Homo sapiens: one gene and its partners. The protein of the gene in region 1 interacts with the protein of each later gene in a pairwise test. Each region holds a gene or a part of one and is shown in the gene's direction. Other genes may lie near its edges. The genes, in order: TMEM237, SLC35B4, PNLIPRP1 and SERP2.

What was found.
Region 2: the proteins of TMEM237 (region 1) and SLC35B4 interact in binary tests that used the Homo sapiens proteins (3 or more experiments, as listed by UniProt).
Region 3: the proteins of TMEM237 (region 1) and PNLIPRP1 interact in binary tests that used the Homo sapiens proteins (3 or more experiments, as listed by UniProt).
Region 4: the proteins of TMEM237 (region 1) and SERP2 interact in binary tests that used the Homo sapiens proteins (3 or more experiments, as listed by UniProt).

Annotation. Positions count from the first base shown.
Region 1 is NC_000002.12:201,626,504-201,634,252, reverse strand, and holds part of TMEM237 (transmembrane protein 237), read left to right. Parts: intron 1-821; coding exon 822-942; intron 943-2,044; coding exon 2,045-2,202; intron 2,203-4,400; coding exon 4,401-4,524; intron 4,525-4,831; coding exon 4,832-5,023; intron 5,024-6,103; coding exon 6,104-6,177; intron 6,178-6,838; coding exon 6,839-6,932; intron 6,933-7,749. UniProt on the Homo sapiens protein: Component of the transition zone in primary cilia. Required for ciliogenesis.
Region 2 is NC_000007.14:134,313,783-134,322,335, reverse strand, and holds the start of SLC35B4 (nucleotide sugar transporter SLC35B4), read left to right. Parts: upstream 1-5,405; 5' UTR 5,406-5,584; coding exon 5,585-5,661; intron 5,662-8,553. UniProt on the Homo sapiens protein: Antiporter that transports nucleotide sugars across the endoplasmic reticulum (ER) membrane in exchange for another nucleotide sugar.
Region 3 is NC_000010.11:116,586,516-116,594,157, forward strand, and holds the start of PNLIPRP1 (inactive pancreatic lipase-related protein 1 precursor), read left to right. Parts: upstream 1-4,443; 5' UTR 4,444-4,480; intron 4,481-4,497; exon of another isoform or gene 4,498-4,524; intron 4,525-4,614; coding exon 4,615-4,663; intron 4,664-5,255; coding exon 5,256-5,410; intron 5,411-5,900; coding exon 5,901-6,026; intron 6,027-7,642. UniProt on the Homo sapiens protein: May function as inhibitor of dietary triglyceride digestion. Lacks detectable lipase activity towards triglycerides, diglycerides, phosphatidylcholine, galactolipids or cholesterol esters (in vitro).
Region 4 is NC_000013.11:44,368,686-44,377,434, forward strand, and holds the start of SERP2 (stress-associated endoplasmic reticulum protein 2), read left to right. Parts: upstream 1-5,138; 5' UTR 5,139-5,340; coding exon 5,341-5,424; intron 5,425-8,749. UniProt on the Homo sapiens protein: Interacts with target proteins during their translocation into the lumen of the endoplasmic reticulum. Protects unfolded target proteins against degradation during ER stress. May facilitate glycosylation of target proteins after termination of ER stress.

The DNA of each region.
Region 1 (7,749 bases):
GGCTTCACTGACTCATTTAAACTTAATACCTACCCTGTGTGCAGAAAAGAGTTAATATAGCAGACCTGAGACTGCTATCCTTGGAAAAGCCTGCTGATAAGATTGGCCGTTAGCTGGCATCTGGGAACTTGGATGATAAACAGCTCCCTACACTGATAGAAAACTTTCCCTAAATTATAAGGTGACTCACGGTGCATTTGTGCACACATAGTGATTTTTGCTGAACATCTGTTTCCCTTCCGGGCATCCAGAATTTTGGTATGTGCTAGGCTTATGTGACTAGCCCCTAACCTTGGGCACTGTCTCTGATGAGCTTCTTTTGTACAACATGTGTCACATGTGTTGTCACAACTCATTACTCTCCAGTAATGTTAGTACATCCTATTTGACTCCACTGATAGAGGACTCTTGGAAGCTTGTACTTGGTTTCCTCTGGACTTGGTCCATGTACTTTTTCCTTTTGCTGATTTTGCTTTATATCCATTTGCTGTAGTAAACCATAATTGTGAGTGTGATGATTTCCAAGTCCTGTGAGCCCTTCTAGAAAGTCAGCGAACCAGGAGATAATCTTGGGAATCTTCAGCACAGCCTGGGTATTGGGTTACTTAATTTTTTTCCATATTGTTTGGCATTACAATTTCAATTTTTACATTGAGAGTTTAGAAGTATAACATTTTTAAAAAATTAAAAATTTGTAAGATAGTGAAAACATTTTTGCCCAATTAAAATTCTTGAAGTTCTTTTCTCTTATACAAGTCTTGTACATTACTTTTCTTTTTATGTTTTAGTTATTTGAAAAGTTAAATTTATTTTGTTTTCAGAATTGGAGACTTCCTCCACCCAAAAGAAGTCATCTAGTTCATCTTTATTACGAAATGAAAATGGTATTGATGCGGAGCCAGCTGAGGAGGCAGTTATTCAAAAACCTCGGAGGAAGACAAAGTAGGAATTTATTTATTCTTCTAACTATTCTCCAGGATTACCCTGATGCTTTGTTTGGAGCTCCGAAGCAGTAGCTTCTCATTAAGTCTTATTACATACTTGTATTTGTGTACCTCTAGGATAAGTATTATTACAAAAAATCAGTTAAACCAATCGAATGATAAATTTCAGAAGAGTAAACCACTGAGAAAATAAAAAAAATTAAGATTGTACTTAAATAAAAAAACTTAAGAGCCATCTCTAAAAAAGAAGAACACAAATAGAATATATAAGTAGCAAAATTAAACATTAAGGATATTTAAAAATTAAAGATAATGAAATAGGCTATTGTGATTTATTTTCTTATGTTAACAGAATTCAAATTATGATTATTTTAGGAATAAGTAAAACTGGGTTTTAGCATTAAGATAAAATGAGTAGTGTACTTTAAAGAAATAACACTGGAAGTCATATATATAGCACTATTATTTGTATTTGAAAATGAACCTACAAATAGTGATCAATGTCTGTGTTAGTCCGTTCTCACACTACTAATAAAGACATACCCGAGACTGGATAATTTATAAAGGAAAGAGGTTTAATTGACTCACAGTTCAGCATGACTTGGGGGTGCCTCAGGAAACTTACTATCATGGTGGAAGGTGAAGCAAACACACCCTTCTTCACAGGGCAGCAGGAAGGAGAAGAATTAGAGCTGAGTGAAGGGGGAAGCCCCTTACAAAACGATCAGATCTCCTGAGAACTCACTATCACCAGAACAGTCCCTTGACAGGTGGGGATTATTACAATTCAAGATGAGATTTTGGGTGGGGACATAGCCAAACCTTATCAGTATCTATACAGAATCATACAGTTTTAAATTTGGAAAGAAGCTTACAGATCTAGTTCAGTCACTTCAATTTTCAAATGAGAAAACTGAAGCCCTCAGAAATGTAAGTAACTTGCTGCACATAATAGTTAATAACCGATTTATTTGAGTAAAAACCACATTTCTTAACTCCAAGTCCAGGGCCCTTTCCATTATATTTATAGCTAGTTCCTTATGTAAGTCTGTAAAAAATTCAATAATCATCTATTTTTCATACATACGTCCTTATTACAGGAAAACCCAGCCAGCAGAATTACAGTATGCCAATGAGCTAGGAGTAGAAGATGAAGACATAATCACTGATGAGCAAACTACTGTGGAACAGCAGTCTGTATTCACTGCACCCACTGGCATTAGCCAGCCTGTAGGCAAAGTATTTGTGGAAAAAAGCCGTAAGTAGATGCCTTGTTTTAGAATATGAACTCTTTAAAAATTGTCCAAGGATATCCTTTATACTTCTGGAAATCTGAATTAAGGAATTAAGCAAAACTGTGTACAACAATTTATACACAAAACTGGTCATCATGCTATGATTCATGAGAGTGAAAAACTGGAAACAACCTAAATGTGAAATAGGAGAGGAATAATGTCAGTAAGTTGTGGTGTATCTATATAATAATGTTCTTCACCATTAAACATAATGTTTAGGGAGAATTTTTCATTTTATGGAAAGATTCTGATAAAAAATGAGCATATACACATGTGCACACACACACACACAGTTTGATCTATGCATAGGACAAAAGACTTGAAGGAAATAGGCTCAAATATTAATGCTGGTTGTTTCTGGATTTATGGGGTTATGGGCAATGTAAAGATCTTCCCCACCCCTGCCTGATTCTTTATTCTTTCTTGTACTTTACCAGTTTGCTGCAATTGGTAGTAGTTGTGGTGGGACAGATAATAATATAAATTCTACAATTGACAATAAGAGAAAATACATGATGATACTACCATATTAAATAAGAAATACAACATTATAGCTGTATATTCTTTTGCAAGATAGTTGTGACATTGTATAATGTATACTAGGTTTGCAGTGTATTTTAGCTCAGGCTGCTATAACAAAATACCACCGACTAAGTGGCTTAAACCACGGACATTTATTTCTCATAGTTCCTAAAGCTAGGAAGTGCAAGACAAGGTTCCAGCAGATTAGGTTACTGGAGAAGGCCCCTTCCTGGCTTGCCGACAGCTGCCACTGTGTCGTCATGTGGCAGAGAGAGCTCTGGTGTGTCTTCTTCTTCTTAAAAGGATTATAATCTCATCATGGGAGCTTTATCCTCATGACTTCATCGAAATCTAATTACCTCCCAGTGACCTCGCACTCACTGGGGGGTTAGGGCTTCAACATATGAATTTTTGGGGGACGCATTCCGTCTATAACACAGTGTTTAAGAAAAACCTACTCAAAGCATGATCATGACTATATACTACCATGGATATGTTAAGCATATGCTGCCTAAAGAACTCATCTGAAACATAAAGGTTAGTCCTTAAAATTTACAATTTAGATTTTGTGTACCTTGTTTTAGAACCCTACTTCAGAAGATCCCATTTAAGGGATCTTGCAGTTCTTGGCCAATAAGAAACCTGTGGTCTAGAGAGGCTGACTTACCCAGTGTCTCACAGTTTGGTTAGGGTGGAACTGGGACTTGAACTGTGGTTTTATGACTTCTAGTCACATGGTTTTATTCATCTACCACGTGGTCATTTAAATTACCGCAGTTCTTTTTCAAGCAGTATCACTTAATCCTCATTTTTATTCTTGCTTCACTTAGCATAGAAATTTCCCTGCTAGAGTAACTGGCCATAAAAGGTACCAGTGGTTCTATTGTCTGCCCAGAAGTTGTCTTTTCTTAGGGAAAATTGTCACACCCCTGTCTTTCATCCTCCAAAACACCTGCGAACTGGGTTTGGTGAGGATAATTGAAATGGAACCTTTCCTGTTTCCTGAGGTCTATTTGTGGATTACTAGATATACAAGAAGGAGCCTCTGAATCAACAGTAAAAAGGCTAAAGCCCTGCTCATACAATATTGCAGTGCTGACTTTTGAACTGATGTTCTTCACAGGAATGTTCTAAAGAGAAATTTATGAAGCAGCCTATTTCTTTCCTGTCATCCCAGAAAGCCATGCTACACATCCTGACATCTTTTCCTAAGAAATTTAAAGTAGTTTTCAAATATTGACTTACCTTGATAGTATAGGCATATAAACTTTAATACTTCTAAAGTCTCTAAATTAGAATTTTGTAGACTAGGTCATGTTAAAGATTTCTAGACTTTATTCTGAGTTGAAAGTTCATTTTTTTTTATTAAATATAATTGATTTCTGAAATTGTTACTTCACTTTGGATTGAGAAGAAAATACACTGACATCGCTTATTTTTCTTCAAGATGAAAAATTATGTTTAAGGAACCCCAAGAAAAGATCCTTCTGAAATAGGTACTGAGTCAAGGAGAATTTTCAGATAGAACAGCAATATTTCAGTCTTAGTTTGCGGCTTCCTGAGTATGGAATTTAAAAAAAAAAATGGCTACCAGGGTTCTCTCTCGCTAGTTGTTAGTAATTACGTTATGTGTTCTTAGGGAGATTCCAGGCTGCTGATCGTTCAGAGTTGATAAAGACCACAGAAAACATAGATGTGTCAATGGACGTGAAGCCTTCCTGGACCACCAGAGATGTGGCACTTACAGTGCACCGGGCTTTCAGGTGGCTGCTTTTGTTGGACTTTTCTTAAAATAAATGTTAACTGAGTTCTGTAATTAAAGAAAAAAATAACCTCTTGGTTGTTCAGTATTATTAATGAAATCACAACTTAAAATGGTAGGTAGGTATATTTTTTAAACATCCTATTGGAATTGAGTGATCTACCTATCAGTGTAACTAAAAAGAAAGAGCTTGCTTTTACTTGTCATGAAATGTTGAATTTTATTCTTGTATATGAAGAGATTTTAAACATGTTTTAGCTTTTTACTTTAGTAATTCATGTATAATAATCAAACCCTTTTCCATTCAGGATGATTGGTCTCTTTTCTCATGGATTCTTGGCTGGCTGTGCTGTGTGGAATATTGTTGTGATATATGTTCTAGCAGGAGATCAGCTATCCAACCTCTCAAACCTTCTGCAACAATACAAGACCCTAGCGTATCCATTCCAGAGTCTTCTGTACTTGCTTTTGGCTCTGAGTACAATTTCAGCTTTTGACAGGTAATGCCTATGACTCCAGATCTGTCTAACTTCTTCAGGAGGAAATGCTGAGCAAAATGTGTCACTGACCATGATAGTTTTCAAAATAGAATTATAGAGTATCAATGTTACTTCAAAAAGTTTTAAGGCCAGTCTACTTCTGTTCTTTTTTGAGGGGATGAGACCATTGTAAACAAAATATTCCCAAAAGACTTCACCCATTCCAGCATCAATTCATAAGTCCAAAATTTCATCCAAATATAGTCAACTCAGAAGTTCCTAAATGTCATCTAAATCAGGTATAGGTGAAACTCAGAGCATTTGTATTTGTCTCCTAGCACTGCTGTAACAAAGTACCACACACTGGCTGGCTGAAAACAGCACATTTATTCTCTTATGGGTCTGGAGGCGAGCAGTCTGCAATCAGGATGTGGCCAGGGTTGATTCCTTTTTCCAGGGCTCTGAGGGAGAGTCTGTTTCATGACCTTCCCCTCACTTCAGTGGTTGCTGACAGTCCTTGGCATTCCTTGGCTGTAGATGCATCATTCCAATATTTGCCTCTATCGTCATGCAGCACTTTCCCCCTGTGTATCTCTGTATCTGTGTCTATTCTAATAAGGACAGCAGTCATACTGGATTAGGGTTCATCCTAATGACCTTATCTTATCTTTATTACATCTGCAAAGACCCTGCTTCCAAATAAGGTCACATTCATAAGTACTCCAGGTTAGGAGTTCAACATATCTTTTTGGGAACACAATTTAGCCCCTTTTAAAAAAAATCCACCGAGTTAGAGCCCAATGATATGGGTAATAGAAAGAGGTAGAAACTAATGAAATTTTATAGATCAAGTTTAATTTTCTTTAGGATGTTTTAACCCCAAAGGAATGTTGTCCAAAGTAGTCTAGTTAGATGTTTTATGTGGCCTTTGTAAATTAGATAATTTTGTCATGCGTGTTAAGTATACACTGTAGCTACTTAAAACCTAGTAATAGTATATGTGCTAGCATTAGACTAGAGAAGGAAAAAACTATAGTCAAGAAAGTAAAGTTTTGTTAAGTTTACAACTGCGCTGTGACAAGAAACTTTTATATTTTCTAGGATTGACTTTGCTAAAATATCAGTAGCAATCCGAAATTTTTTGGCCCTGGATCCTACAGCTTTAGCATCTTTCTGTGAGTAAGCAGTTTAACATGATAACTGTGTAATACTTCAGTTATACCATAATTTTGAACCAGGATAAATATAATTTTTTTTAAAAGTTGTATTACTGCTCCTTATAAACATTACCTATAGATGTTCAGTGAATTTGTAATTAGAAACATAAAAGGCATAATATTGATAGAATTATTTTTTCAATTGAGGTTCATCTAAATAACTTTGAAAAGCTTAATTTATTGTACTATATTACTTACTTTTTAACTTTTGTATTTTCTACTTGACATTAAACAGATTCAGCGGGTATGGCCTTTTAATAACAAACAATATTTTATATCTTTCTGATCATTTGGAATGCATTTTGTTCTAAGTTTTGAGAATATTAATAAAACTAGTTTTAGGACCTTGAGCAAGTCATTTAACTTTTAAAAAGATGTTCTAGGTTCTTGTCAGTTCTAATGATGAAATAGTGAACGTCTCAAAAGATCCTTCTGCACCTATTGTTCTCAAAAATTTATATAAGGATGTCTGGCCTATTGAAATATATTTATTTGGTCAAATAAATTTCTTTTATATCATCAGTCATGAAAGTATAGATTATTTTCGATATTAATCTATAAATTCAAAATAAACCAGGTTGTTAAAAATTATTAGTAATTTCATTTGTCTTTTTCTCAGTGTACTTTACTGCTCTTATACTATCTCTGAGTCAGCAAATGACAAGTGACAGAATCCACCTTTACACACCTTCTTCTGTTAATGGTAGCCTCTGGTAAGAATTCACAATGACATTAGCAATTGTTAATGGCAATAACAGCAACTTTTCTTATCCTTCCATTCTTTTTCAACTGCAAATAATGAAGGCTCTGTTTTTGTTTCCAAATATATGGCAAGAAAATACTTATTCCTTTGGTTAATGGGTAACTATTGTTATGTCCACCTGCATTTTTAATGAAATATCTTCCTTTTAAAAATCTGTTTTAGATCTTCAAGTTATAGTTTTTTTTTTTTTCGAGATAGAGTCTCGCTGTGTCACCCATGCTGGAGTGCAATGGCACTATCTCGGCTCACTGCAGCCACCGCCTCCTGGGTTCAAGCGATTCTGCAGTCTTAGCCTCCTGAGTAGCTGGGATTACAGGCACCCGCCATCATGCCTGGCTAATTTTTGTATTTTTGTAGAAATGGGCTTCACCATGTTGGCCAGGCTGGTCTTGAACTTCTGACCTCAGGTGATCCACCCGCCTTGGCCTCCCATATTGTTGGGATTATAGGCATGAGCCACTGCGCCCAGCCAAGTTATAGTTCTAAAATAAGTCATCATATGATGGACGGAAGGAGCCCTGCATTCTTACCCCCTGTCAGGGAGTTTCATATCCCAGAACAGTGATGGGAGTGAGTAGCTGGGATAGATTCAGAAAACCAAGCAATGCTAGAAAGAGCGGAACAGGGAGAGCCAACATCTGCAGATCAGCGGCCAGCCATGAAGCTGACAGGATGGCTGAGATTATAGTTCATAAAACTTAGAGAAGCAGTCTTTTTTTTTTTTTTTTTTTTTTTTCCCCAAATGCTGCACGTAGCATCCAAAAGTA
Region 2 (8,553 bases), on another chromosome or scaffold:
AACTTCTCTGCTAGCCAGAGGACTGCAGCACTACCCCCTTCAATGAGGTCTGAATCTCCATTTGGGGAGGAGGGGAGAGGGCCCTTTTCCAAATATGTTCTTTTCTTGGGTAGTCTGACTCAGTCTTATGTAGTGGCTACTCCTTGTATCTGCTATTCCCATAATTTGGGGAGTTCTTTTAATCCTTTATAGTAGTTTATCTTCTAGTTAATACTACTAGTTAATAATTCTTTATATTAAGCTTTCTTTGTTCAAATTACTATACAATTTTTGCCTCCTGACTGGACCTTAATTGATACGCTGATATCCAATAGAAATGTACAAAAGATATGTACAAGATATTTCACAGTAGCACTATTAATAATAGCCAAATTGTCCATCACCAGAGAACAAATAAGTTGTCGTATATTCATACAAGGAAATGTTATGCAGCAGTAAGAATAAATGAGCTACAAATACACAAAGAAATGTAGCTGAACTGACAACATAATGTTGAGAAAAAAAAAAGAAGAAACAAAAGAAATATACTGCATGATTCCATTTATGTAAAGTGCAAAAGCAGACCAAACTTATCTTTGGTGCTAGAAAGTCAGAATAGTGCTTGCCCTTGGAGGGGGTTAGTGATTGGAATGGGGCACAGGAGCTGCTGGAATGCTGGTACTCATTTATTTCCTAACCTGAGTATTGGTTATACACCACTGTTCATGCAAATTCACTGAGCAGTACATTTTTGATGTTTACATTGTTAAAATTAGTCAAGCTGAAAAATATCATGTATTCATGAGGTGTGAATTATTTGACTACTTCAAGCTGATTCATTCAGTCATTGAATAGAAGGTATATGCACATATTATGTACCAGTCACCATGTAAGATGCTGAGGATCTAGAGATAAATTAGTTATTTGTGGATTCTGTTCATCAAAGGCTTAGTCTAGAGGGGGAGACCAACATGAAAACAGATAACTACAGTGCAACATGATTAATGGATTAGTGGGGGTATGGAGGAGTGCTGGAGGTATAGAGAAGGGAGCCATGAATGGTTCATTGAAAAGCAGCCAGGAGCAGTAGCTCATCCCTGTAATCCCTGCAATCCCTGCATTTTGGGAGGCTGAGGCAGGTGGATCACCTGAGGTCAGGAGTTCGAAACCAGCCTGGCCAACATGGTGAAACCCCGTATCTACTAAAAATACAGAATATATATATATTCTGTATATATATATATATATATATATATATATATATATATATATATATGCCAGGTGTGGTGGTGAGCACCTGTAATCCCAGCTACTCAGGAGGCCAAGGCAGGAGAATCGCTTGAACTCGGGAGGCAGAGGTTGCAGTGAGCCGAGATCGTGCCATTGCACTCCAGCCTGGGCAACAAGGGCAAAACTCCCCCTCCAAAAAAAAAAAAAAAAAGGAAAGAAAAGCTACACACAGAAAAGTGACATCTTAGCACAGCACCTTCCTCCTGCACAATATAGAGGTATCCACTGACTCTACTGTCCTCTCTGGCCACCGTAAAAAGATGAACAGGAGTTGGCTAAAGAGAAAAGGATATTCCAAGCAGACAGAACAGCGTATGCACAGATAAGAATTTTGAAAGTTACTGTAAACTCAGGGAAGAGAGTGAGTTTATGTGGGTGGAGCCCAGGTAACCCTAGGGAGAGTGACACAAGGTAAAACCAAAGAGGTAAACTAAGGCTTGATTGTGATGTTTATATGCCTTCTACTAAGCGTGGCTTTTACACAAGGAATCAAGAACATTGTATATAGCTAGACTTCAAAGACGTCCCTCCCACACAGACACAACTGATGATTTTGTTAGTTTTCTCCCACAGTGAATCAGGCTTGGTCCTATGGAATCAATAGAATGTGGTACAAGTGGCACTGTGTGACTTCAGAAGCCACGACGGCTTCTGACTTAATATCTTGGAATGCTTGTTCCAGGGGAAACAAGTTACCATTTAAGAATTCCAACTATCCTGAATCCACCATGTTGTGAGCAAGCACAGCCTAAGAGACACCATGTCAAGAGACTTGCTCCTGCCATCTCGGGGATCAACCCTTTCAAGCCTTCAGGGAACTCCAACCCCAGCCTACATCTGACTGCAACTGCATGAGAACCCCAAGAGGACAGAGCAGCTGTGTGCTGGGCACAGTCAGCACACAGAACCTGAGTGAGAAATACAGTGTGTGGGTTTTTTTATTTGTTTGTTTTGCTTTGAATCACTACAGTTTGGGGTGGTTTGTTATGTCGTACTACACAATTAGAAAAGACATCTTAGAATAGCAATGGGACATGAAGATTTTGGGTTTGTTTTTGGAATCAGCCTGGAGGCAGCAGGGAGGATGGGTTAAAGAACACAGAGGCTGAAGGCACCAAGATGTTAGGAGGCCTTTACGGGAGAAGAAGTGGATGTCAATGGGAATGGACAAGAAAGGCTGGAATCTAGAGATACTTGTGAGGTGGAACCGATGGGATATAAAGAGCAAATAAATGTGCAGTGGAAAAAAGAGGAAGACCGAAAACTTTCAGGTTTTTCCCAAAGAGAAGAAGTAGAGTACAATGTTCTTAATAGAAATAAAGGCCTATTAGGGAGGGTAGGTAATGAAATGTGTATGCCCTAATGGTGAGGGGTTTACAGGGAAACATTAGTGAACATTCCAAAGACACTGGAAATTTTGATTAAGGACACAAGGGAGATGGGGGCTGTACATAGACACACACGCAGGATCACTATTCCATATGGCAGTGGTGGAAGTTCCAGAGGTGAAATCGCCAAGAGAACATGTGCAGGGCAATGAGAGGAGGGAATAAATGATGGAACTCTGAAAGGAGAACCCAGTGGTCAGAGGAGGAGAGCCCATTAAGGAAACTGGAAAGCGTAAGTCAGAGAAGTCAAAAGAGAAACAGGAGACTCATGTCTTATAAACAGAGGGACAAGAGAATGTCAAGAAATATTGGGTTTTCATTGTAAAAAGCCACTGCCAGATCAAGTAAGGTGAGACTGTGTTATATGGTTTTCACAATTAAGAAGTCATCACGGCTCTCAACAGGACTGCTTTTAATACCCTGGCATTGATCAGAGTAGTTTAAGAAGCTGATTGGAGATTTAACAAGTAGAGACTACGAATGTAGATTACTCTTTAAAGAGAGTTGATGGTAAAATGAGGGAGGAAGAAAGATAAGTTAGTTTCTTTGAGCATGATTTTGGTCTGAGAACAGGTTTGCTAGCAAGAGTTCTCTGAGCAAATGAGAGGGGAGGATAGAGAGGTCTTCAGAGTTAATGATTTTACAGGCTTCTGCTCTCCAAGTGCAGTCAACAGGTCAGTAGCACCAGCATCACCTGGGAGCTACTTAGAAATGCAGAATCTCAGGCCATGCTGCAGGCCTAGTGAATCAGAATCTGCATTTTAACAAGATCCCCAAGTGATTAACATGCACATTAAATTAATACTCACTGCAGTAGGTGAAGACAGAAATGTGGAGGAAGGAAGAAAGATACAGAACTCTTGCAAATATTACAGTACTCAGGCCATTTTTTTCTTGTGCAATCACTTAGACATGCTTGGGTTTTTATCTGAGATGTAATGAGAAATGTTTAGAACATCCTTTAAGGGCTTCCAAATTAGTGGCATATATGGAAAATGAAGGTCTGTGTGAAGAGAAATCACCTCTAATGAAATCCAGATGAAAATCCAGACCAGCTTCCTGTTGGCAGGATTATTGATAGTGGAGGTGGAGATATTATCATTGCTTCAGCCTCACTCCCAGATAGTCCACTTTACTTGGTCTGAGGTAGAACTGGTACTATTATATACCTGTATATATACCAGTTATATATATATATATATGTGTGTGTGTATATATGTGTATATGAATATAACTGGTATATATACGTGTATATATGTATATATAATTCATTGTTTAATGTGCCAGCACTGTGCAAACTCAAGACGGGTGCTCATTAAATACTGAATTTCACAGGTAGTAGGCTTTCTATTTATGTTAGTTCTTCTTCCTACTCACCTTTTTAAGGCAGCAGTTCTCAAATTCTAGAATGCATTAGAATTAGAACGTGGAGTGCTTGTTAAAAATACAAGTTTCTAGAACCCATACACAAGGATTTTGACTTGGTAGGTCTAAAGCGAGACCCAATAATCTGCACTCGATAACGAGTACTTCAGATGATTCCAATGTGATCTCCCAGTCACGGACTGGGAAAAAAGCATTCCAAACTATTTTGTAGATCTCGAGAAAGACTTCAGAATGTTCGTGTCTCACAGGAAATAGCAAAAACAATATAGCATTCCAAAATCCTACCTAGCTTTGTACCGTGTACTTTGCTATTGCTGTTGGATTCAATTACAACGGAAATATTTGATGTGGTAAAATACTGAGCAGTGATGCTAACCTTTTATAGTAGACACTGGGAAGCAGAAAGGAAGTGTAAACACGTTTCCCTTAAAAACTAGTCTTGCTGGGTGGATAAAGTGTGCATACCTATTTTACAAATAAAGAATAGTGCCGCACTAGCTTATGTACGTAATATGTGCTTAACAAACATTTGTTCATTGAGTAAGTAAGAGTCAAGTCGAATGGCTCAGATTGTAAGTGCTATGAGAATTCCACTGTAAGAAGAGGGAAGTATGCCTTCTTTTCACCATTAAAGATCTGATTGCTGATATTGGCATTTTTGCCAGTAGAAGAGCCTGGACGTTGGCAGTTTTCAAAGCCCCCAGGTGATTTGACTGCGCAGCTAAGTTTGAGAACCACGGAGGTAAAGGAAGGGAGTACCTTAAAGAGCTAGGATTAGGGATAATATCAATAGATCACCTTTAAGGCTGCACCTCAGCCTAATTAAATCAGAATCGCTGGGGGTGGGACTTGGCTATCAGTCATCTTTAAAGCTCTCCAAGTGATTCCAATGTACAGACGTGGTTGAGAGCCATTGCTTTACTTGAATTCTCAGTGGTTCTTAATCCTGGCAGCATAATAGAGTCACCAAAGATACATATATATATATCAGTTCAGGAAGCAGAGTTGTTTCAGATGCTAGAACACCTCCAACGAGCAGTCACAGCTCTGTAGTTCTAGTGCCGCCGCTGCCAGCAAGTTTGTTGTGACCCTGGCGGCCGAGTTACTTTCAGCGCTCTGGGCGGTCTCGCAAGAAACACTGACGCTTTGGGACTTCATTTCCCAGCAAGACCCGCGGCCGCCTATCGCGCGAGTCATGCCGGGCACCTCGTCCCCCTGTCCTCTCTGGCGGAGCTGCCTGGCGGAAGCGGGAACGTCGCATCCTGAGGTAAAGGTGCACGGCATCCTGGGACATGTAGTCTGGCCGGGGCTCGGACGCCCCCTCGGATGAATGGGACCGAAGCTGACTGCGAACTACAGCTTCTTGGCAGCGTCGGTGTTGGCCGCGGGAGAAGGGGAGACCGCGGCGGCCCCCAGTGAGAGCGGCTTTCCAGGACGGTGCGATGTGCTGCGCAGCGAAGAGGCAGGAGGCCGGCTTCCTGGGGTAGCGGTACAGGCGGGCGCTTACTCTGTGCGCTTGCTTCCCCAACCCTGCACCGGCCATGCGCCCGGCCTTGGCGGTGGGCCTGGTGTTCGCAGGCTGCTGCAGTAACGTGATCTTCCTAGAGCTCCTGGCCCGGTGAGTGACCCGCTCGGGCCGCACCCGGTCTCCCGGGGCGGGGCGGAGGAAGCCAGAGGAGAGGTCCCCCCGGGACGCGCCCACGCCCTGTCCCCACCCCGCCGCCCACGGAGCCCGGGGCAGGACGGCCTGAGCCCCCCAGCAATCCGTCCTGTCTGGGCAGCCTGGGACCCCGCTGAGTCCGCTGCTTCCCAAAACTGCGCACCGGCGGCAGTCCCGCCTAACAGTTTCAAAGCATTCCTGCGAGGGGAAGACTCAGGGTGTTGCTGTCGTCACCCCTTTTCCACACTCGGGGGGTATTGAAGTCTGAAGAGTTTTTCACATGACCAGTCCAAGGTCGGCAGAGAGCTAGTGTCAGAACCAAGGTTCCTTCACCAAACCACTCTCTCTTCCTTCCCATCCAACTCTAGCTCTTTTTTCGATCCTGTTAAATGGCACAGGCTGGACTTGAGCAAAGGTTTTTGACTTGTAAAGCAGTCTGACTTTGTACATACTGCAAAGAAAGTTTTATTTTTATTACGGCATCCTGCAAAGCATTTGCTTTATTGGCCTTGGAAATGGTTATGAGTACTTTGCCCAAACATACATAAATGATGCGGTAGAACAGATTTTTATGTAGAAGATCAGTCCACGTGACCCGAGAGTGCTCTTTGAGGTGGCTTGCAAAAAGACAAAAAAAAAAGCAAGTAGAAGATTGGTCCAAGTGACCTGAGAGGGCTCTTTGAGGTCACTTTGAATGTGCAAAGTTCAGTGGATAGAAGCTATAACAGAAGAGACAACAGGTGGTGTGGAAAAGCCTCCAGGACTAAAAAGCTGGGTTGTGAATTTCACTCTTGGCTCCGTCGTCCACTGGCTGTGTAGCCCTTCAAGTCACTTAGCCTCTCTTGGGCTCCTTTTCCTGGCAGTAAAACAATACCTATAGTGTTCTCTAGCTCGTGTTTCTGAATCTATACATTACAAGTTGAGTATCCTTCATTTGAAATGCTTGGGAACGGGTGTTATTTGGTGTTTTTTGTTTTTTGTTTTTTTTTTGGATTTGGGAGTATTTGCATATACATAATGAGATATTTTACGGATGGTACCCAAATCTAAACACAAACTCATTTGTGTTTCTTATACACCTTATACACATAACCTTAGCTTGAAGGTAATTGTATACAATATTTTTAATAATTTGTACATGAATTAAAGTTTGTATACGTTGAACTATCAGAAAGCAAAGGTGTCAGGTGTGGAATTTTCACTTGTGGCATCATATCAGTGCTCAAAAAGTTTCATATTTTTTAGAGCATTTCAGAGTTCAGATTTTCAGATGAGAGATACTCAACTTGTATCTCTGTTGATCATCCGAACAATCCTGTGCAGAAGATTGGTCAAGAATTATAAACTGTTTTACTGAAGTGGAAATGGTCCAAAGAAGTTAGGTGACCCTTCACTACTTGTAAGTGGCAGAGCCAGAAATGGGACCCAAGATATCTAAGCTCCTAGTCCAATACCTTTTTCAACCTCCCTGCCAGTTTTGAACTTGAGCAGCCCATAGATTTTGGTCATCCAGTTCTTCATGTGGTGCCTACTAGAAGTTTATTTTATTTGATATCATTGATTAAATCATCCCAAAGCAACCAGTTTACTTAAGGTAAACTCTGTGTGGGGTTAAGTTTTGCTGTTACGGAGCTTGACATTTTATTGTACAGAAAGTGTTGATAAAGATCTGTTATTTGACTTGGGAATAGGTGATGAGGGATAAAAAATGAAAAAAAAATTGTATCCAACTGTAAATCTGATACACTTTTAAAGGAAGGCCACTTTGGCAACAATTGATTTGAAAATATAAAAAAGTTGGCCAGGCATGGTGGCTCACACCTGTAATCCCAGCACTTTGGGAGTCCGAGGTGGGTGGATCACGAGGTCAGGGGTTCAAGACCAGCCTGGCCAATATGGTAAGACCCCGTCTCTACTAAAGATACAAAAATTAGCTGGGCCTGGTGGTGGACACCTGTAATCCCAGCTACTCAGGAGGCTGAGGCAGGATAATCGTTAGAACCCGGGAGGTGGAGGTTGCAGTGAGCCGAGATAGCACCATTGCACTCCAGCCTGGGCAACAGTGCAAGACTACGTCTCAAAAAATAAAAAAAGAAAATATAAAAAAGTGATACCATCGGGCCAGCCATGGAAATGAAAGTCAGGGAATAATGGTAATATTTGTGTTGAATATGCCATTAAATTAAATCTTGCCAAAGGCTGTATGACATGAGAATATGCAAGCAACTGAATCCCCTCTTTACTAGTTTGTGAGCCCTTGACTGAATTACTTGATCTCCCTGAGTCTGACCCAACTGTAAAAGGGGGTGATGGTGATGATGGTTCTACCAGCTTCACAGAGTTTTGAAGGATGAAGTGAGATGCGCATGTGAAGCCTAAAGCACACTTGTAGGGCTTCCCATTCTGTCCAACAATTTGGTTTCAATACAGATATATTTCTTTAATATATAAAAGAAAGATATATTTCTTTTTTATATATTTATGGTCCTACAAAGTCGTGGACAAATCTAATTTTATAAAATATTTTCATGCATTATAGGAGCTCCTATTTAAAATATTTTGAATAATTTGTAAATAAATCATCACTTATCTTTTTTTTGTAAATCTGCATTTTTTGCATAAAACAATGGGTTTTCATAAAGTGGTGAGGAGGTGCATTTATTAAAATAATCAGTGGTGCACCAGACTGAATAGAGCCTTTTCCTAAGACAAGTCTCCACTTCTTGTGTTACAGATCAATAAAATAAGAGCTAGTTGAACCAGATGGCCTTAAGGTTCTTTCTAGATATGGCCTTGGAATTTGTGACTTTATCTTGGGACATCACAGTGGAAGCCCCATAAATTTTTATA
Region 3 (7,642 bases), on another chromosome or scaffold:
TAATCCTAGAGTTATCAGCCTATACTTGTCAGAGTACTTTCCATGAATCTCCATAAAGCTGAAGCTCGGTAAGGTTACAGTTGCTTGCAAAAAGCTTTCAGAAAACAATTCACTGGCCAGGCGCAGTGGCTCACTTTGGGAGGCCAAGGCAGGCGGATCACTTGAGGCCAGGAGTTCAAGACCACCCTGGCCAACGTGATGAAACCCTGTCTCTACTAAAAATACAAAAACTAGCTGGGCATGGTGGCATGCACTTGTAGTCTCAGCTACTCAGGAGGCTGAGGCAGGGGAACCGCTTGAACCCGAAAGGCGGAGGCTGCAGTGAACTGAGGTCGTGCCACTGCCCTCCAGCCTGGGCGACAGAGCAAGTCTCAAAAAAAAAAAAAAAAGAAAGAAAAAAGAAAAAGAAAAGAAAAAAAGGAAACAATTAACTATTTAATGATCTGTGCGTGAATAACAGGACTTAAAATGACCATCGTTAAAAGATGAGAATTCATTATAATAGTGACACAATTCACAAGGAAATGTGGTTGTTTTGTAGCATATAACAGTTTAACATAATAACCAAAATTACAGCTGCTAACACATTAGATTTCTAAGAATTTATTAGTTTGTGGAACATGAAACAACATATTTATACAAGTATAACTAAAAGAAGGTTAAATATAATTTCTTATTTACAATGTTTCCCATATAATTTAATGTATTTAATAAGCCTAATTGGTTTAATATGTCTCTTCCTTTGAGAAGCTCCAGGGACCCTCTAGTATGTCCCAAAGTCATTCTGAGATCAAAAGACTTAAATTAGAATTTCAGAAGTTTGTAAGAAATGTCAAAAGACCTAAAACATTTTCTTAAATAGGATCTTGGTCATTATGAAACAACTAAAGGTAAGTACAGAAAAGTTACACAGTTTTTAAAAGCTTAGCTCTTTTAATATTAAGAAGACAGTTTGTTATGGCTTCTGGGCAGTATTCAGAGAAGAGAATTGTAGGAGACAAGACTAGGATGGTCCTTGAGTAAGCATTCATGTCTTCCACAAACATGTGCTGAGCACCTACCATATGTGAGGCACTCCGCTAGGCATTGGAGACACAGAAGTGAGCAAAAAAAAGACCCAGTTCCTGGTCTCCGAAGTCCATGGCAGCTGGATGATGAGGACTTCCTCATGGACAAGCAGAGGCCCCCAAAAGTGGCTTCAGCCAAGTTTTGGGTGTAAATCAACCGTTTTGATACTTGTATGGAGAGCAAGTTCTGATTATTTCCCTATCTAATCGTCATTCAAGTTTGCAGAACTTCACAGCACCCAGATTCTGAAGGCTGGGAGTTGTTCTGGAAATGCCAAGGACCCCTACAGAGGAGCGCAGACTTTTGGACCTAATGCACTCCAACTGGCACCAGGGTTTGTCTGGCCTCGGTGAGATCTACCAGCGGTCATCAAGGACTTTGAGAACTCTAGGTGAAACTCAGAAGCTGAGTTCACTTCCCACAGACAGGTATCTCTAATAAAAGAAAAAGAAATCAATAGCTGACTAATGATGAGGCAAGTTCTTGTACCCTACTTCCATTACAACACACAGAGGGAGAGTCTGCCAGTTCATGGGATATTTAGAAACATAGTTCAATGTAATACAGTCTGATTCTAGGCTCTGGAAGAGATTTAAAAACCAGCTTTCTCAAAACAAACATTTCTCTAAAATTAAGGGACTCCGAAAACCCACCTTGAACCCAACTCTATCATTCCCCCAGAATTAAAATTGAAGGAGCAAACAAGGACAGAGCTGATTGCCTGAAGGAAAGCAGATATTTGGGCTTCATCTACACATGTATGTATAACAGATAATGGCTGGTGACTTCATTCTTTACTTTTGTGACCTTCAATGAGTCATACGTCTTGAAGACCTGAGAGCTGTCTGGTGGAAATGAAGTCATGGTTTCAAAAAGAGATCCACAGATTTGTATGCCTATGAATCCTTACTTGTGACCCTGAAACTGGATGTAAGTTCAATCAAAATATTCCAGTTGTTGGCCAGACGCAGTGGCTCACGCCTGTAATCCCAGCACTTTAGGAGGCCGAGGCGGGCGGATCACTAGGTCAGGAGATCGAGACCATCCTGGCTAACACGGTGAAACCCCGTCTCTACTAAAAATACAAAAAAATAGCTGGGCGTGGTGGCGGGCACCTGTAGTCCCAGCTACCTGGGAGGCTGAGACAGGAGAATGGCATAAACCCAGGAGGTGGAGCTTGCAGTGAGCCGAGATCGCGCCACTGCACTCCAGCCTGGGTGACAGAGCAAGACTCCATCTCAAAAAAAAAAAAAAAAAAAAAAAGAAAAGAAAAGAAAAAAAGAAATTCCAGTTGTTATTGTTGTTTGAAAGACTCACCCAGAAATCTTTCCATCTGGTGTGGAATGAATAAATTGTCTGACAGCCTGTGAAGGAGAAGCAGCTTGAACCTCAGCCTTGCTAGAGGCTTAGTCTAATTAAATCCCCTAGAGCATTTAAACAGGAGCCAGTGCATTGGAGCACAGTGTATATTGACTGATGCACGGAGTTTCCTCATTGTCTTAGGAAAGGGTATGCTCGAACCTGGTGCTGTGTGCTAAAGAATAGTAACAGTGAGTGCAACAGGTGCTGCTGTCTCTGAATTCCAGGCCTGGCTTGGGTTCCTGTATTGGTTAGCTACTGCTGCATAACAAACAATCACCAATTCAGTGGCTTAAAGCACTGAATTAAAGCATTTATCCATGCTCAAAAATCTGAGTTTGCTGGGTGGTTCTTCTGGTCTTGGCTGGATTTACTCATGCCTCTGTGGTTACAGTGGGTTGAGTAGGCAGTGCCACTAATCTTGGCTGGGTCCTTTACATACTTGGGGGACAGCTGGCTTTGAGTTGTTCAAAGATGTTGCTGTTACCACACTTAATGACCAAATCAAGTCATACCATGTCTAGCTCAGATTCAAGAGGTGGAGAAATAAACTCCACTTCTTGATGGAAGGAGCTGCAAGATCACATTGCAAAGGGTGTGTGTACAGGAGGAAGGGATGAAGAACTCTGACCACCTTCCCAGTCCATCACCAAGTCTAGCCTGTTTCTCCATCCTGGGGATGCCTGGAAGTAGGGAGGAAACAGGTCAAGGGCCAAGAGGGTTTTCACATTTTCTCTTTTGACTCATTCTGTGTATCCCTCTTGTTCTACATGGTTGACATCCAGTGAAGCTTGCTGATTACTAGCTCAACACAACTGAATATTCAACAACTCTGTACAGCCTGAATTCAAATCTTACCTCATCACTCGTTAGTCGTGTGACTTTTTAGGCAATTTACTTATCTCTCTGTGCCTCAGTTCCCACATTTATAAAGAGAGGCTTATGGGATTGTTTTAAAACTTATTAGGTAATACACGTAAGGTGCTTGGAATTCTGACTGTACTTGGTAAGGCTTCGTAACAGTTGGCAGCTATTCTTTATGATTCCAGGAGTCCTTTCCATTTTCTTAAGAGGAAGGCCCTTAGGCCTGCACCCTTGTGTTTTGGTTATTTAAGATTGAGAACTTTGACACCGAGGCATATTTAACTTGGCAAGGGGAGGCACTCATGGTGTTTGCTTTGTGAAGGCTTATCTGCCTTGCTGTGTGAACTGGCTGGGCTGTTCACAGATGCAGAGGTCTCTGGTTATATCATGATGGCTTTACAGGGTCCAAGAATTATCTGCAGGTGTGCAACCTTCAGAGGACCTGGGGAAACTCAACAGACATGACATGGGCCTCTGGGGGCTCCTGAACCCAACTATTGAGATTACAGTGGCATAATGCAATCATTGCTATTGTTTTAAAGTGTTGTCTTTTGGATTGGTTCATTGCATAGCAATATATAACTGGAATAGGCAGTTAATGGGAGGATTGTGGTCAGAAGCTACTGTGAGGGCTGTTGAATTTTTCTCCAAAGCTCAGATGCCCAGTATTCCTAGTCTTCGAAAGAGAGAGAGGAAGATTGAGAGAGAGAGAGAGAGAGAGAGAGAGAGAAGAAGTTTTCTTAATCAGAGATTTCTCTTTACTTTCAACTAATTGCAGGTATTTTCATCTATTCTAAATGAGAAATACTATCCTCTATCATTAGGGTTTGCTGCTGTGTCCCTATTGAGACTTGTAAACTATTTGGTGATGAAATAGAAAACTGAAAAGTGAGGGCCCATTCAGCTCACAAGTACATGCATAGTTACATAGGTACAAGGTTGGTGACTTCACTCCCTGCTTTAACCAAGCATTCTGTCATATTTCCAGACTTGTGGGAAGACTTGACAGCTATTATTAATCTTGTTTTGTGTATTTGGGCAGATTAAAGTATTAAGTGCGCACAGCATGGGCTATAATCACCTGCTGTTTTCTTGAAGTAGTGTCCAAATGATAAGGCTGGAATATATATTTTTAGAAAGGGCTGGACACTCGATCCGGTGGGAGGGAACATCTGGAACATTAGACAGGGTAAGCCACCTTTGCAACTCCTTTCCCCCTGCTGTGACGTACAGGTGAGGTAAACAGTACTGAAGTCCAGGGCGTCGGTGCTCACTGCTCTGGCAATGCCCGGTGAGACTGAATTATGTTTAAATTTATTGTAGATGCTGATCTTCTGGACAATCACACTTTTCCTGCTGGGAGCAGCCAAAGGTAAGAAACACCACTCCTGCCCCGTAGGAAGGGCTTAAACTTAAGCTCTCAGCCCTGGCCAGAGAAAGCTTTAACTGTGGCAGGGCTCCCAGCAGCTCCAGGGTACCAGAGAGAAGATGTGGGCTGACACTCTGCCTGGGAGAGTAGGCTGGGCAGTTTAAGGGAGACCTGTTTCTGGGGATCCCCCCAGTGGCCTACCTTCATGCTCGGGGTGCCCAAGGCCAGACATTTCTAGGTAAAGCATGAAACATCTGCCTGAGTTAACATATTGACTTATCAATGCCCATGATCACATTGGTCAAATAAATGTATCAGAAGAGCTAGGAATGGGACTTAGAACTTTCCAGTTTTGAGGGTAGTTCTAAACAAAGGCTCCAGTGGTGTCCCTGTGGGATTCAATGGGACTGATACTACTACCGGCCAGTAGTAGGTGGGCACTGGGGTCAAGAAGAGAGTGGGAGGGGTTGCAGTAGGTTCATCCATTGTCTTCAGACTGTCCCTGAATAGAAGAGTGACCAGGCCCGAACAGCAGTGACACCCCAGAGCACACCTTGAGAGCAAATCCTTGAGCAGATTCAACCTTTCTCTGTAGGAAAAGAAGTTTGCTATGAGGACCTCGGGTGCTTTTCTGACACTGAGCCCTGGGGCGGGACAGCAATCAGGCCCCTGAAAATTCTCCCCTGGAGCCCTGAGAAGATCGGCACCCGCTTCCTGCTGTACACCAATGAAAACCCAAACAACTTTCAAGTGAGACCTCTGTCATTTAAATGTCACTGTAACTGGCACGGGGCTATGCCCACCCTGCAGACCATGAATACCTTATCTCTGTGCCCTCTTCCTCCACCATGCCCCACCCCATCCCTCAAGCTGCCCCCCAGACCTAGCTAGACCTAGACAGAGCAGGTCTTTAGTAATGTTGGCTTGAATGAATGAATGGTTCACATTTGCCAGAACCTCTAGCTACTGTGTGATTCTGGTCTGGGGCAAACAGCTTACTGTCTAACAAAAACCACAGGGAAGGTAAAACCTCAAACCACAATCCAGGCCTAGTGGAAGCAGTGATTACTCACCTGGAGAGATGGGGCAAGAAAAGGGAGATCAGGGTGGGCTTCATGGAAGAAGTGGCTTTTTGCTAAGCTTTGAAAAGTAGAGGCATTGGCGCAGGCGGAGATGAGGAAGGAAAAAGGCCTGTGAGGCTGGGCTGCGAAAACATGAAGCACTTCTGCGTCTGTCACAGATTCTCCTCCTCTCTGATCCATCAACAATTGAGGCATCAAATTTTCAAATGGACAGAAAGACCCGGTTCATCATCCATGGCTTCATAGACAAAGGAGATGAGAGCTGGGTGACAGACATGTGCAAGGTAGGAGCCAGCTCTGATCCCTGTGGCCAGCTGAGGCCAACACTTCTGCTAACATCTCTGCATCACTTTATGCACTCAAGAAATCTTTACATATTAGGTAACTTTATGCAATTAAAATGCTTCTCTTCACAAAAATTAAAATGCCTTTCCATGTTTCCGCACTACATCTGCACACTGAAGCAACCACATTTGCTGTTAGAAAAGTACTCCTACTACCTAATTTCTGGTTAAACCAAGGCCTGATGTTTTCTGCTTCCATTTGTAGTGAGGGTACTTTGTATCCTATAAGCGAGGGACTATAGGGGTTTCTTTGTTCAAATTTTTCCCACATCCCTGAGAGGCTGACATGTGTTGCTGTGACCACTTAATTGATCCCAGCACTTTGGGAGGCCAAGGTGGATGGATCACCTGAGGTCAGGAGTTCGAGACCAGCCTGGCGAACATGGTGAAACCCTATCTCTACTAATGATACAAAAATCAGCCTGTTGTGGTGGCAGGCTCTTGTAGTCCCAGCTACTTGGGAGGCTGAGGCAGGAAAATTGCTTGAACCCAGGAGGCAAAGGTTGCAATGAGCCAATATTGTGCCACTACACTCCAGCCTGGGCAACAGAGTGAGACTCCATCTCAAAAAAAAAAAAAAAAGAAAACTAAGATTAAGTTACTACAATGACAGAATAGAAAGTGTCACCTACATGTAATATAGGTCAGAAGGAGAGCAACAGAAGAATACACACATGTGCACACACACACATACATACATGGACATGTGTGCAACTTGTGCATACACACACAAACACACACACATGTGCGTGCAATATACCACAATATACCATCATCCTTTCTATTTATGTGGAGACTAGTTCAATCGATTTTTCTGTCACCTAAGAATTTACCTACCCCAGGAGCCTGCCTTCCACACATACATTAATAACACCAACCAGTAATGTCAAAAGGAAAAATTACAAACCCAGAAAATTAAAGTCATTCTGCACTTGCCCTTGGTTTAACAGGCATTTCACTCTTGGCACCTTTCCTGTCCTATCATTAATAAGCATCTTATTGATACAGTTTATACTCCAAATTCTCCAGGCTTGTGAAAGTTTCCTCAGGATTGCTTGAAAATGAAAGTCCTGGCCAGGTGCGCAGTGGCTCATGCCTGTAATCCCAGCACTTTGAGAGGCCGAGGCGGGTGGATCACCCGAGGTCAGGAGTTCAAGACCAGCGTAGCCAACATGGTGAAACCCTGTCTCTACTAAAAGTACAAAAATTAGCCAGGTGTGGTCGCAGGCGCCTGTAGTCCTAGCTACTCAGGAGGCTGAGGCAGGAGAATTGCTTAAATTCGGAGGCAGAGGTTGCAGTGAGCTGAGATCGCGCCACTGCACTCCAGCCTGGGCGACAGAATGAGGCTGTCTCAAAAAAAAAAAAAAAAAAAGAAAGAAAAAAAGAAAAGAAAAGAAAAGTCCTGAGGAGAAAACTCCCACTATCTCTGTGCATGTGATCACACATATTAGTATACTATATGTGGAATGATTCCAAGTGCATTTTAAATTTATAGTACCATTTTAAATTCAAGCTGGTAATATGTACTGCCTGGCAGAACTCCTAAAGATATATCA
Region 4 (8,749 bases), on another chromosome or scaffold:
TTAGAGCTCTCTAAAGCAGACATTCTTCTAGCAACCATTGAATTCTCAGTGTCTAAAATAGTGTCTGGTATATAGCAGACACTCAATAAACACTAAACGAATGAATAAATGACTGTCTGGGTTTCCTTCCAGTTACAACATAACATGATTCCATAAAATCATAATCTAGTGCATTGAGTTGACTCCAATGCATGTGGCAGATAACATTTGCTATCAGCTTTCTTGATTTTCTCTGCCCACTATTGAGACAACTTCATGAACATTTCCACCAGAATGTAAGTAACATGTATAAAAGGAGATGACCTGAGATTTGCCAAATTTTCCTCTTTTCTAGCCGTACTGAAAATGGTTTGGAAAAAGAAGAAAGTATTCATTTGAAGTGTCGGTTATCTGCTGGTTTTATTTACACAGGGTGTGCCTGTCAACCACTCCCATCCATAATTGAGACCAGCCACCCACAGCACCTGTCGTCAAGGCCTCTATACTCAGTTCCCCTTAGTGAGATAAGGTGAAGAGAGACCACTAGCTAACAATGTGTGAAAGCTTCAAGTGACATGACAGTCACTCCAGATCTGGAAGGGGAAATGACAAAGGAAGACATTCTGGTTTTTTGTTTGTTTTCATGTACATGAGTCAGGGTTCTTGGTTGTAAATAAGACAAACTCACTCTGGCTGATTGAAGCGGAAGAATTTATTGTAAGGATTTCAGGTACCACGGAATAAAAAGGATACTGTCACTGGTTCCACCATGATTGCTAGGTACTACCAGTCTCTAGAAACTCGACCACCAAGATGAATTTTAACGTGTCTCTGTCTTTGCACCACTTGATCAAGATTCACAGTTCCCAAAAGGAGAATCTCATTGGCCAGATCACACGCCACCCTAGCTGTGAGGGGTTGGGAGACCAAGTATGTGGCCCCCTTATGCTCCACGGTGGGAAAGAAGGTCCTAAGACTCTCACAGTGATGGAGTGCCCCAAATATAAAGAATGTTTGCATGCTGGTCAGCCACAGAAAAATGAGAGATGTCCAATGCATCACAGTTTAGTAGTGTAGCATCATTTATAAAGATGGGTAAAACTCAGTCTGTACAGCCACACATCCAGTGCCCTAAGTGGGGCAGATTTATGATTAATGGGCATAGGCTTGTTAGGATTTCTTGCTCTAAAGGCTGAAAATTGGCTGGGCATGGTGGCTCACACCTGTAATCCCTGCATTTTGGGAGGCTGAGGTGGGCAGATCACTTGAGGACAGGAATTCAAGACCACCCTGGCCAATATGGTGAAACCCCGTCTCTGCTAAAAATATAAAAAGCCAGGCGTGGTGGTGCATGCCTGTAATCCCAGCTACTCAGGAGGCTAAGGCAGGAGGATCACTTGAACCCGGGAGGCAGAGGTTGCAGTGAGCCAAGATTGCGCCACTGCACCCCTACCTGGGCGACAGAGTGAGACTCTGTCTCAAAAATAAAAATAAAGGCTGAAAATTTTACCAGCCAAAATTAAATTTTAACCAGTTAGCAGTTTCCTGGCACTTTGCCCATAACAATTTTAAAAGTTGTGGTTGAGCACTGCATGCTAGTGGTATATTACAAAACTCCATGCTGCCACCATAGATGAACCCAGGAGAAGTTCTCCTTAATCAAGTTTCCATTTTCCCCTCCTAAGTCCTCGAAAGAGCAAGACGACTCCATGCTTTGCTCCTTCGTAGTCTAGTAGTGACTCTGGAACTCCAGGAACACAGCTTATAGACTTTAGCCCCAGCTCCCCACATAAGGGTCTGGAGGCTGAGTATAAGAAGGGCCAGGATCCATGCTGGGAAACTGCTTGGTCCATGATGGTGATCCTCAAGGCAATAAACAGGACTGAGACCTGCAGAGGAGCTGGCCTGACTGCAGAGGACAAAAGCAGGGGTGTGAGCAGGTAAAGTGGAGGTCACAGCACGAGGTTTCTTCATCCAACCAAGGACATAAAAAGTTGCAGCAATTTCACTTCCAGGAATCTAATTCCAGTGTTGTGATATAGGAGAAACCAAAGTGTTGTCTCCCACTCTCACACAGCCAGCACACTTTTAACACTAGATGTGTGGGGGATGTTTCCCCTCATACCAAGCAATTCTGCAACAGACACCGGCTGGGTGTCCTTTAATTCAATTCAATTCTGGCACTATGTACCTGGAAATAGCAGGGGCTCAGGGTTTGATCCTATGAGACCGCCCCCCATTTCAGATGCCAATCCCAGGTAGTAGGTTGTCTCCTGTACCTCTGCCTGCCCAGCTATAAACTGGAGTTCCCCCAACCCACTCCTTGTTTGGACTAATCTGCTAGAGTGGATCACAGAACTCAGTGAAACACTTTACTTCTGTTTGCTCATTTATGAGGAAGGATATTACAAAGCATATAGATGAACAGTGAGATGGAAGAGATGCACAGGGCAAGAAATGTGGGAAGGGCTGTGGCGCTTCCATATCCTCTCTGAGCACGCCACCCTCTAGGAACCTGATGTTCTGCTCTCCAGAACTCAACAAACCCTATCCTTTGGGCTTTTATACAGGCTTCATTGCATATGTCTGATTGATTACATCATTGGTCACTGGTGATCAACTTAACTTTCAGCCCCTCTCCTCTCTGTGGAGGTCTGGGGGGACAGGGTGGGACTAAAAGTCCCAACCCTCTAATCCTGCCTTGATCTTTCTGGTGACCAGTCCCCATCCTGAAGCTATCTAGGGTCTCCAAGTCACCAACCATCTCATTAGCATACAAAAGGTAAGATATTTTCATCACTCTGGAGAGTCCAAGGAATTTAAGAGTTTTAGGTCAGGAAACAGGGACTACAATCAAATATATATTTCACAATATCACACGCAGATATACCTGCACAAGTACACACTGATCTATGTACAGGGATATTCACTGAAGCATTGTTGGCAACCACAAAAAAAGAAAAACTGGAAATAATCATCCATGGTTACATCAGTTCAATATATTACTGTATAATCATACTATGAGACATAACACAACTACAAGAAAGAGGTCATATATAAGTGATATGATAATGTTGATATATTAAGTTAGAAGAGCACGTGGCAGAACAGTTTGCATACTACTATTCCGTTTTTTTTTAGAAGGGAATATACAAATAGTCTTGTATATACTGGAAGGGCAACCCAGGAACCGTGGGAACTTTTTGGGGAGGGTGGCAAGGAAAGAGAGACCTTTACTTTTCATTTTCTATCCTATTTCTGTTTGACTATTTACTGTGTAGATGTAGTCTACTCATAATTAAAACAAACTAATTTAAAATGCCGGAAAAGTGAAGCATAGCAGGAAAAAGGAGTCAACAGTAAAGAAAAATTTTCCCCAAAAGGGGCTTCTCTCAGTTAAGAACACTTCTGAACTGTACTCACTGAATGTGAAGACCCAAAGAGAAAACAGTCTCTGTCTGTGTCTTTTCCTTAATGTCGCTCAGAGCCAGACCTCTACTCACCTGGTGAGGACCTGGGTCAGTCTCCTGGTATTTGGACATGATCTGAGAGGAGTGAGTCAGGTAAAGGAACCTTCTGGACCACAGACAACAGCCAGGCTCAGCAGGGATCACTGAGGTAGGAATCCCCCCACCCAAACCCCTAAAAAAGAGCCAACAGTTATTAAAAACATGGGACTAGAGTGGGGCAGACTGGGTTTATGGTCCTGTTACAACAGTGGTGATGCTAACAGTTAAAAGACCATAGAAGCTTGTTTCAAATTAATTGGCCTGTAGAGTAGGAAAAAAAAAAAATGACTCTACTAATGATCCTAGGCAATTCTGTCTTCTAGGTTACAGCAAGCAGCCCCCAGAATGGCCTTTATTGAAGCCTGAGTGACAAGAAGCCTGTAGCGGGGTGAGGGGGACCCGCTTGGAAAAAGGCCCCAAAAGAGGAGCTCTTCCTAACTCTCCAATGACATGGGAAAATTTTACTCACACAAAATTCCCTGGAAACCCAGCCACCTCCCGCTCCAAGAGAAGGCCTAGAGATGCAGTGGCCAGAGACAGCCTCAGGCCTTCTTCCCCATGCTGGGGGTGCTGCTGCTTGCCTTCACCCCGACCCGGTATCCCCACTTCCCGCTGCCCCAGATCTCCCAGGCTGAATGTCCCCTCTTCGCCTCCACTCTTCTGAGCTTCTAAGAGCTAACTCCAAGTGAGGAACTGAACCCCTTCCACCCCTACCTCCCCAGGCAATCTGTAGAGCTCTTGAGCCCTAATACCAGTGTCTGGGAGGCGCGTAAACGCTTCCATTTTTATCCTTCCACTGCAGAAAATGCCCAGTTTAGTCTGGGAGACACTCAGACCCCTCGGGACAAGGGTGGCTAGAGAGAGGTCCAAGCTGCCCTGGGTGGGTGGGGAGTCAAGGCAGGCCAAAGCTTCAGATTTAGACAGTAACCACCAAATCCGACCTGGGCTGCAGGTCCAAGGCCTCTTCCTCTTTCCTGCATGCTCCGCTCTGCCGCTGGCCCATCTTCCAATGCAACCCCTACAACTACCAAAGCAAAAAGGCCTGTCCCAACTCCATCCTCACGGCCCGATCCCCAACCCTCAGGGGATGCCGCTTCGTGTCTCCTCTTTATTTTACAACGCGGCCCTCCTTGCAGCCCTCACGAAAAGTTCTGCAGTGGGGTCCCCCAGCGTGGGGCCCTTCTCGAGACCCTTAAAGAGAAGGCTCGTTTGGTGGACCATACCCGGGCAGCGCGGGCCCGGGCCTGGACTGGTTCTACTTGTGTTCTGAGGTCCCTGACCACCGCCTTGGGTCCAGCCCTCGTCCAGGGGGCGGCGGTGCAGGGGAGACCGCGCGGCCCGGCCTGAAGCGCGGCCGCCCTCATCCCTTCCCCGGGGCTGGGGTGGGTCACCGGCCGACAAACACAGGAGGGGCCGCGTCCCCGTCCCCGACGCGCTCACAAACGCCGTGGTCGCCCGAACCTTCGGCCCCGCAGCATTCGGCTACAGGACCGCGACACTGCAGGGCCCCGGCTCTGCGCGCTGCGCTCCGGCCGCTCGGCGCGGGAGGACGTGCGGTCGCGCCTGCCTCGGTGGCCGCGCGGGGTAGGTGGCTGCGGGGACCGGAAGGATGGCGAGGAAGTCGGAAAGGGTTTCCTGAGATGAGAGATTACTTCCGTCCGGGCTGCGGCCTCTCTCTGGAGTCGGCTAGCCGGGGCTCGGGGAGCGGGGTGCGCAGGGCTCGGGGCCACGCCTTGCCACCTGCAGCGCCCGGGTGGGCCGCGGGGGCCTCGGCGGGACGCGCTCGGCCCTGTCGCAGGAGCTAACGCAGGGGGAATCCTTGCAGGTGGGAGCATTTCAGAGCGCACAAGCCATGGTGGCCAAACAGCGGATCCGGATGGCTAACGAGAAGCACAGCAAAAACATCACCCAGAGGGGGAACGTAGCCAAAACCCTGGTAAGGCGGGGTCGGCGCCGGCCAGGCAGAGCCCTGCAGCCCGGCGGGGTGGGGCGGAAGGTGGGGGCGGGGCCGGGCGGGTAGCGGCGCAGGGTCCGGCCTCCCGGCTCCCGGCCCGCCCCTTCTGCGGGGTCCTGCAGAGTGGGGGCTGAGAGCTGGGTTCAGGGCGGCGCGGTCTGCTTGGCGTCCTCGTGGGCGGAGAGGGCCCTGGTTGGTCGTGGCCCCTCTGGGAGTGGCTACCTGGGCTACCAGGGAGGCGCAGAGGAGCCCTCCTCCCCGACCCGCACCCCCTGTCCCCCTGCCCGGGAGACAGCTGGGCCTTGTCCCGGAGAAAGACGGAAAGCCTCATCCTTAGGGGCCAGTTAAGTCAACTGCATGACACAGAGCCTGGAACCTAGTATGTTCTAGAACGTTGCATGACACAGAGCCTGGAACCTAGTATGTTCTAGAACGTTTGTTGAATGAATGAATGAATCAATGGCTAAATGGAGGCCACTTGTCATCTCCTCCCGGACTCCACCTGTCTTCCCTCCCCAACAGACTTGCACCAGGATCAAGTTTTCTTTCCAGCCCCTTTGTGACGGTTTCACTGGAGGTGTGGAAAGAGCTCAAAATGGGGAGTGAGATTTGGACCCACATTCCCTCCAGCCTCTTTTTTCTCTTTTACCTCTCTTCCAGCGAGACCTCCCTCAGCCCCTAGGCTAAAGTCTAAGGGCAGCATTCCTATTCTTTCCACTTGGTGAATTCAGACTCATTCTCATGGTATAACTTTAGAGACCAGTTTATTGTCAGGCATTCGGTGTCCCTAGAACTGTAAATTCAAGCTTTGCAACTGGACTTTTAAGTAAAACCTGTGCCTTACACTCAGGAGTTTCTTTTAGCAAAGCAGATTATCATCAACAGAAAATGCGAGGCCTGTGACTTTGGACATTCAGAGGCATGAGTCGCATGGGTAGTTTGGCGAAGTTGGTCTCCAAGTATATGAGCAAAGGCGCCTGGGATCTGTTACCCCGTACAGTTAAGTGGAAATCCAGCTGAAGCCTGGAGTTTGGCTGGGAAAGCTTGCAGATTTGATGAATCAATTCCTTTTAGCCAAAGAAACTATATTGGTTTGATTAACTAAGCAAAAAGCTAGATCTGTAATCATCACACCAGAATTCTTGCAAAACCAAGCAGTATTACGGCAGAGAAACTCTAGGACCAAACTCAACTCTACTCAGAGCTTTATACACAAGTCTAAGCATAACTCAACTCTACTCAGAGCTTTATACACAAGACCTAAGTAATCCTTAAAATTCTCTCATTTAGGAATTATATCACTCAGTTGTGATTAGGCAGCAAAATGCCAAGATGCCATCAAATTGGAACCATTTTGTCACATTGATTTATGTTTTCCCTATTTTTACTGAGGAAAAAAAAATGGCTGCCCGGGTTGACATTGAGAAGCAACTTATAATTGATGTTAAGGCATGCAGGGTTTTATATCCCTAAGAGATCAATTCTTCCTTCTCAAGGGATCAGACCTGCTAACTGACACAGTGAAAAATAACTAGTCATGTGGCTCTTTTTCATGAACTAAAAAACCGGAGTTCAGTTGTCAGATCTCAGTTGACAGCTTATCTGATTACAAAAGTAAGAAGAAAACAAGAACTAATTTCTAAGGCTGTTGTATCTATTAGGTTCTGTAGACTCAGTGTCTGCCACCTCAAGTTCTTCAAGAAAACTAGAAAATGTTTGGGACCCAAAACAAAAATTATTAGCTCCAAAATAAAAGAAGAAAATGGAAAAATTGGGAAAACATTGTTTAAATACCTAGAAAAGGTACCAGTCACCTGCCATTCAACTCAATGTTCAGAGCTACATTTAAATTATATTTAATGTACAGTATGAGTTCATTTTAATATGCTCTGATATGTCATGGGGTGGCCCCCAAGAAACTCTCATAGTGCCTTGCACCTATAAGAGTTTTTAAATGGCCCAGCTAAATTTGTAATGAAAGGTTTCCAGACCAAGCCACAATCAATGTTTGCTTTGCATTGGTTGGGGGGATTTTGGTTAATGTTATTGTAAATAGATTACTATCCAATAGAAAAATGAAATTTTCTTTCAAAGAGAAACTTGATAAATCCTAAATCTCATGTTCTCAATTACAAGTCAAATATGATTATACTTTGTTAAAAGTAACTTGCAAAAGATCACTATTCAGGATGAAATTCATTAAATGGGAACAAGTATAGATTCCAACTGAAAATTCAGACTAATTGTTCAGAAATAAACTTCTTTAATTGTATGCAGATGCTTCAGTATTTTATTATTAGCTAATAGCTTACGGATAAATTAATATTATTCTCCCAGATAGCAGACTAATCCAAGAAACAAGGCCGGGCGTGGTGGCTCAGCACTTTCTGTAATCTCAGCACTTTCGGAGGCCAAGGCGGATGGATCACCTGAGGTCAGGAGTTCGAAACCAGCCTGGCCAACATGGCACAACCCCGTATCTACTAAAAATACAAAAATTAGCCAGGCATGGTGGTGGGCGCCTGTAATCCCAGCTACTCAGGAGGCTGAGGCATGAGAATGGCTTGAACCCGGGAGGCAGAGGTTGCAGTCAGCCGAGATCACGCCACCGCACTCCAGTCTGGGTGACAGAGCAAGACTCCGTCTAAAAAAAAAAAGGAAACAGAGAAATGGAATAATCATTTTGTGATTATACAGTAGTAACTTCTCCAGAATGAAGGGGGAATTTAAATTTCAGAGTTCTGAGTTACCCTACGGGTATCTTAATCACAGGGAAAGCCATTCCCTGACATTTTTGGAGCCTCAAGAAGTAGCAAACTCATGTTTGGAGTAAACCATGTCATTTGCAGAATCACTACTAGTTTTCCCCACCTTTTCCAGCCATAGAGTAAGGTTTATGTGAATTGTCCCAATGGGATTGTGCTGGGCACCCCTTCTAAAAAGTAGTCACCCAAAGCTGTCAAAAAAAAGATATATGGGTACTATGATCAGCCAAAGTCCCCAAATCATGTTGATTCCATGGAGAATGTCATCCAAAAGGTTTTTGTGTTATATGGTCCAAGCTCTACATGCTGATCATCTGTTTTTTCTGCATATGAAAAATAAAGGACTCTATTTGGTATCTGTCCTGGGCAAGTAATTCATTACAGGCTTCTGAATTCACTTATTAGCTTTGCTGGAAATAGAGATAAAATGAATTTTTTTATATAGCATCAGTGGCACAACAGCAACAGAACTGGTTTCTGGGCAACTGTGACAAGTTCCTGGGAAGGTGGTGGAAGAGGGTGGGAAGGGCGAATGTCACACT